2 linked regions of the Homo sapiens genome follow. The protein of the gene in region 1 purifies or fractionates together with the protein of each later gene. This does not show direct contact. Each region holds a gene or a part of one and is shown on either strand. Other genes may lie near its edges.

Region 1 (3,155 bases):
GATTTTTTAACCAGCAATCACTGCTGTAATTAATTTACATGTTTCATTTCATTTAATCCCCACAACCACCATTTGCAGTAGATGCTATCATCACATTTTGTCTGTGGACACTGAGAGGTTAAGTGGCCCAGCTAGGAGGTACTGGAGCTTGAACTCTATCCCAGGCAGTTTGTCTCCACAGCCTCTTCCTACTATTCCACTTGCTTAACATTTGATAATCTCTTGTGCAATTCACTTGATAGACAAATTTTTTCAAAATATAGAGTCTATGAAACTGGTGAAAAGAAAGGGGATCACTGTTCTGGGTCAATGCCTCCACTTTATAGGTGAGGAAAAAATGAGGCCCAGAGAGGGGAAGTGATTTGCTAAAGATCACACAGCAAAGAATCAGAATCTACAGGGTGTCTGACTCCCAGGTGGGAACTCTCAAAACTCCAACCCAAGTAAGCATAACCACCTACATGTGAGCAAGCAACACCAAGACCAGGCAAGACAACATCTCCAACAAAAGCAGCTTGATTTTATTGCAGGGAAGCTAGGAAGGAATAGGACAACTGAGGGTCTCCGCAGGAACACCATCACCCGGCATGACTGCCAAGTCCCAGGTCTGTCTGGAAGCCAGCGGGAGGATCAGCATCCTAGGAAAGATGGAAAGTTAGATGGAACAAAGGTGCCATCTGGTGTGGACATAGCGACATTGCAAAGGCAATAAATGCACTAAGAGACAGGGGTGACGCAGGGGTGCACTAAGAGTCTTGCACTAAAAGGCAGGGGTGAGGTGGAAAACGCAGGGTGCAGATGCAGGAGCAGGACTAGAGCCCCAGTGTCCAGCCCTGCACACTGCTCCCATGAAGTCTGTTATACTTAGGTTGGCTGGAACGCATTAACCTTGCTAAGCCAATCACTGCCAAAGCCCTCTTCTGGGGAATTTCCAGGGCTGCCAGGATACCCAGTCAACAGCACTCTCTATCCTGTTACAGGTTGGAAAGGCAATGAACAAAATCATGGCAAATAAATCTGCCAAGAGTCAGATGATCAAGGTGACTTCAAAACCAATAAACACTCTATCTTTGAGGTTCCCAAGCCTGGCTTCAAATCAGTCACTGAGGAGCCTCTTAAAACAGACTTCAAAGACATGCTGCCTGAGCATGTGGACTAAAGCTGGCTTATTGGGTGATTCTTACTGAGTACTGTGCATCTGAATTTCCAGGAGCCTTTCCAAACAATACATGGTTACTGAAATATGTACAGGTAAGATTGCATGATGTCTAGAATTTGCTTCAAAATAATCTGGGCAGGAGGGAGTGGGCATGATGTCTAGAATTTGCTTCAAAATAATCTGGGTGTTTCATCACCCAGATGAAACAATGAGGACAGTGGAGTTTCTAATCCAAGATGTGTGCATTAGGGCTCCCCCACATGGATACAGATAGCTCCAGAAGAGTTTTTTTCCTTCTCTTCCTTAATTCCTTCTTGTCACAGAGCACTTTTATCAAAAAATAACAGGCCTTGGTGAAATAAATACTAACTGTTGGATCTGAGTGACGGGTACTTGGGGATTCATTCTATTACTCTACTTACACATGTTTGAAACTTCCTATCATAAAAAATCTAAAGTAGATTAAAAGTACCATGAAAATTATTAAGTATTGGAAGGAATGATTTACAACACATGCTATGACTTGAATGAATCTTGAAAACATTATGCTACATGGAAAAAGGCAGACACAAAAAGGTCACATATAATGTAATTCTTTTTATATGACATGTCCAGGGTAGGCAAATCCAGAGTAGCAGAAAGCAAATTAGTGGCTGCCAGGGGATGGAGAGATGGGTAGTGGGGAGTGACTTCTTAATGGATACAGGGTGTGTTTCTGAGATGATGAAAAAATTTTGAAACTAGAGAGAGATGGTGGTCATACAACATTGTGAACACACCAAATGCCACTAAATGATAGACTTTAACCCATTTATGCCTAGTGTTCCATTATTGGAACGCTAAGCTTGCAGGAGTTATTTATATCCTACTGTTCAAGGTCATCACCAAGGTTTGATTTTTCACATAAAAAACTTTGCAATATTCAGCATAAATGGGTTAAAATAGTTATTATGTCTTGTGAATTTCATCTCAATAAAATAACATGAGAAAACATGTTTTCTATGAGAAAAACACATTAAGCTACACATGGTTTACATCCAACAGATATTACTTTTTTAGTTAAAAAAGTTCGTATGCCCAGGCCTGGAGTTTCTAATCCAAGATGTGTGCATTAGGGCTCCCCATGTATATAGCTAGTTCAGGAAGAGTATTTTTTTCCTTCTCTGCCTCCATTCCTTCTTGTTACAGAGCGTTTTTATAAAATACAGTCTTACGGGAAGCCCAATATGACACAGGACCGTTTGGGAGCTATGGAGGGTCCAAAGCCCCATCCACTCACCCTCCCTACAAAACCCTAGGGGTGGAGGAATGATGTAAGAAACACTGTTCTTCAACATGCTGGAAACCGCTGATGTTTTACTTCCCTAGAGGATAAACTTTCATATGTGGAGAGATTGCACAGCAGTCCCCACAAGGCAGGAAAGCAGGTTGGAGGTTTTAGCCCCATTTTACCGATGGGAAGACCAAATCTCTGTAATGTAAAAAGTCCCCAAAGTCAGTGTGAAATGAGGAAAGTTGGAATTAGAATCCTAGATTCCTCATTATTCATCCTGGGTTCATTCCTGAATATGGGTTCTATCTATGGATGGAAAGTGCATGACGAAAACAGATGCATCTGACATCTTGTAACTTGCATGTGATGTTACCACATACACAGAACACTGCTATGACTCAGGTTCCAAATGTATGCCTTTGGGAAGGAGGCTATCCTCAAAGAGGACCTACCAGTCAGTGTGGCTAGCCTCTGTCCAGGGGGTCTCTGTGGGCCCATTCACAGGGACAATGCCACCAGTAACAGTTACAGAACTCCGATTCAGGATATCTGACTTTCTTCCTGCCTCTGCTACTCACCAGGGTGGGACTCTGGTTGAATCACTTCCCCTCTCTTGGCCTCATTTTTCTCAGTCACGTCAGGGCACCAAACCACATCAGAGGTGTGGCGATCATTGTAATTCACGAGTCAAATGCACTACATGGGCAGTGGCAGCCAGGAGTG
Region 2 (4,024 bases), on another chromosome or scaffold:
GCAGACTGAGCATTTGCTATGTGCCTAGTTCTAAGTATTTCTCATATACTTTTAATCCTGAGAACAATCTAACCAAGTAGCTGTTATTTTTATCCTCATTTGACTAATGAGGAATCAGGCACAGAGAGGTTAAGTAATTTGTCAAAGGTCACACAGCCTGTTAAGTGACAAAGCCAGGATTCCAACCCAGAGCCCATACTCTTACCCACTACACTGTGTACTGCCATGTGTGCATACAGATTTACACACACACACACACACAGCCATCAGGGGCCAACGTCCTTTCACCATTCCTACATGTAGTTTCTACCCTCAAGGTTGCCTCATGGTCCAAAATGGCTTCTGATGCTCCAGCCATCACATCTCAATTCTAGGCAGTAGGAAAGAAAAAGAAGGGAAGGACAAAGTGGCCCCCTTCTTGTCTTTAGCAGCCTTTCTAGAAATCTCACATAATATGTCTATTTCCAATACTTGACTAAGACCCAGTCACATGGCCACTTCTAGCCATAAGGGAGGCTGGGAAGGGTGTTTCAGTTAGCCGCATGGCCACCCTAAATCATTCATGGAGGGGTAAAGTGGATGATCTTTGAGGGTCACTGCCAGCAATCCAGTCCCAACTCCATCTGTAAGTCACGTTTGCCTTAGACAAATCACTTAGCCTCCCAGAACCTCAGCTTCCTCCTGTATAAAATGAGGGTTATAGGAGTTAAGGAACTGACTGTCTTGGTTTCCTGGGACTGAGGGATTTCCCAGTGCATGGGACGATTTGGTCCTCCCCATAGCAGTTCCTACATGCAGGGCTGCTGTTGGAAGAATTCAGCAAGATTGGGTGTGTTCTCCTGCTAGCCTCTGGTAGAGAAGAATTCAGCGAGATTGGGTGTGTTCCCCTGCCAGCCTCTGGTAGATGCCCACTAGATTAGTTTCTCTCCTCTTCAAGAGAGGAGGCGGGGCGCCTGGGGTAAGTGACTCCTGCAGGGTGTGCATGTGTGTGAAGCCTTCCAACACCCGTTCCTCATTCCAGCCCTACCGGATCTTCAACACCTGGCTGGGGGACCCGTCCAAGAACCTGTTGCTGGCTGAGGTCATCAACATCATCAAGCGGGAGGACCTGCTAAATAATGCAGCCCATGCCGGGAAGGCCCTGCTCACAGGACTGCTGGACCTCCAGGTAACACCCCCTCCCCTGCCCCGCCCCCACCACCCATGGCTCCCCGCAGCAGCCTCCGGGGCAACACTGGAGCTCTTCGGCATGGTGTTGTGCCTGCTGTTCCAGCAGTTCGTAACGGGCTGTGCTGCTCCTAGCCTTGGGGGCTTTGCACATGCTGTGTCCTCTGCAGGGGATGCCTCCCTATCCCTCCATCCCATTCCAACCCCTATTCCTGAACTCCTGGTTTTCTTTGTTGTTGTTTTTTTTAATTTATTTTTTATTTTTTTAATATTGAGACATGGTCAAGCTCTGTTAGCCAGTCCGGCCTTGAACTCCTGGCCTCAAACGATCCTTCCACCTCAGCCTCCCAAAGTGCTGGGCAGCGCCTGCCGGCACTGGTTATCTTTCTTATTTATTTTATTTTATTTTATTTGTCTATTTATTTTTTGAGACCAAGTCTTGCTTTGTACCCAGGCTGGAGTGCAGTGGCGCAATCTCAGCTCACCGCAACCGCTGCCTCCTGGGTTCAGGAGATTCTCCGGCCTCAGCCTCCCAAGTAGCTGGGATTACGGGCATGTGCCGTTATGCCCTACTAATTTTTTTGTATTTTGAATAGAGACAGGGTTTCACCATGTTGGCCAGGCTGGTCTCGAACCCCCGACCTCAGGTGATCCGCTTGCCTCAGCCTCCCAAAGTGCTGGGATTTCACGAGCATGGGCCACCGTGCCCGGCCCTGGTTATCTTTTGACACCAATTTCAGACATCCCCCCTTTGAGAGTCCCCCAAGCACTCCCTCTCTCACCCCCTCTAGTGTGTTCATTATTCCCGCCTTTGTGCAACCTGTTGCATACTTACCACTCGGCAGCACTGCCCTCCCCTGCTGGAGCTGGATTACTCTCTACCCTCAAGGTTTCGTCATGGGCCAAAATGGCTCCTGGAGCTCCAGCCATCGCATCTCAATTCCAGGCAATAGGAAGGAAAAAGAAGGGAAGGACAGAGTGGCCCCCTTCTTGTCTTTAGCAGCCTTCCCAGAAATCTCACATAATACTTCTAACACTTGATTAAGAGCTGGTCACGTGGTCACTCCTAACCGTAAGGACGTGTGGGGATGTGTGTGTGTGAGTGTGGCAGGCAGGCCTAAAGGGGTGTCTAAATGGAAGAGACTTTAATCTAAACCATCCCAGGGCCACACTCTGTGGGAGAGGGAGGGGTGTGTTCAAACTGCCAGCTCCCCAGCAATTGACAAGTGCAAGGAACATGCTAGAGTAAGTGCTGGAAGGACTTCTGAGCCTCAGTTTCCTTATCTGTGTAGACCAAAGTGAGCCCTTCTTCACTGGCAGGGGATTCAAGAATGTGCCCACTGCCAGGCACAGGGGCTCATGCCTGTAACCCCAGTACTTAGGGAGGCAGAAGCAGGAGGATTGCCTTCAGCTCAACTGAGTTTGAGACCAGCCCGGGCAACATGGTGAGAACCCATACTCCACAAAAAGAAACAAATTGTGCACATAAGTGTCTAACACGGTGCCCGGCTCTGTCACCCCCAGAATAGGACCATGTCTCCAGTTTCTACCAATGAGCTGCCGTGAAATAAGACTTGCTCCCCCAACTCAGCCCCCAGTACCCTGAAATTATTTGGGGTTTTCCAAGCCCTTGTTTGCTGTCCTTCATATGGACAGCAGAGAGTAAGGTGAAATCAAGGTCCTCCAGACTAGGCACCTGCATTTGTTTCCTTGTCTGCTGTAAAAAATCACCACAAACTGTGTGGGTTAAAACAAGAATTTATTCTCTCACAGTTTGGAGGCCAGGGTCTGAAATCAAGGTTTCAGCAGAGTTGGCTCCTTCTCGAGGCTCTGGGGGAGAATCTGTTCCATGCCCCTCTCCACCTTCTCGTGGCTGCCGGGAATCCTTCATGTTCCTTGACGTGTGGAGGCTTCACTCTGCTTCTGGCGTCACTTGGTGTTCTCCCCACTGTGCCTGTGTCTGTCTCCAGATTGTCTTCTTCTTATAAAGATACCAGTCATTGAGCCGGGCGCTGTGGCTCACACCTGTAATCCCAGCACTTTGGGAGGCCAAGGCAGGTGGATCACTTGAGGTCAGGAGTTCGAAACCAGCCTGGCCTACATTGTGAAACCAGTTTCTACTAAAACTACAAAAAAAAGTTAGCCAGGTGTGATGGCAGGTGCCTGTAATCCCAGGTATTTAGGAGGCTGAAGCACAAGAATCTTTGAACCTGGGAGGCAGAGGATGCAGTGAGCCGAGATAGTGCCACTGCACTCCAGCCAGGGCAACAGAGTGAGACTCCATCTCAAAAAAAAAAAACAAAAAACAAAAAACAGTCATTGCATTAGGGGCCATTCTAATGCAGGAAGACTTCATTTTAACCTAACTAATTATTTCTGCGAAGACCTTATTTCCAAATTAGGTCCTAGTCATAGGTTCCAGGTAAACATGAATTTAGGGGGCAGTGGGAGGAAACTATTCAATCCAGTACAGCTCCCAGTCTCAAAGCCCTGAGGGAGGACAGGCATTTCTTCTTCCAGAAGAACCACCTTTCTAGAAGAGCTGACGATGGAGATGGCTAACATCTGTGGAGCATCCACCAAGTGCCCAGCCCCAGGCTTAGGACTTAACATGTGAACCTTATCGTGCTAAAGTCTCACCACGGCCCCAGTGGGGTCAACAGCATTTAAATCCTTCAGTTTATAGCAGGGTAAACAGAGGCACTTGAGTGGCCCAAGGTTATACAGTGAGAGGGACAGAGCTGGGCTTGGTTGTTGTTGCTGGTGGTGGTGGTGGTGGTTTTTTTCCTCCACACAACACACATGTGCACAGCTGGGCTTTGAACCCAGGCCTGAATGTCCCCAGAGCTCTTAACCC

What was found.
Region 2: the proteins of ATOX1 (region 1) and ABAT fractionate together in Homo sapiens (co-fractionation; one large-scale study listed by BioGRID). This does not show direct contact.

Annotation. Positions count from the first base shown.
Region 1 is NC_000005.10:151,742,322-151,745,476, forward strand, and holds the end of ATOX1 (copper transport protein ATOX1), read right to left. Parts: intron 639-3,155; 3' UTR 501-638; downstream 1-500. UniProt on the Homo sapiens protein: Binds and deliver cytosolic copper to the copper ATPase proteins. May be important in cellular antioxidant defense.
Region 2 is NC_000016.10:8,775,323-8,779,346, forward strand, and holds part of ABAT (4-aminobutyrate aminotransferase, mitochondrial isoform 1 precursor), read left to right. Parts: intron 1-1,021; coding exon 1,022-1,168; intron 1,169-4,024. UniProt on the Homo sapiens protein: Catalyzes the conversion of gamma-aminobutyrate and L-beta-aminoisobutyrate to succinate semialdehyde and methylmalonate semialdehyde, respectively. Can also convert delta-aminovalerate and beta-alanine.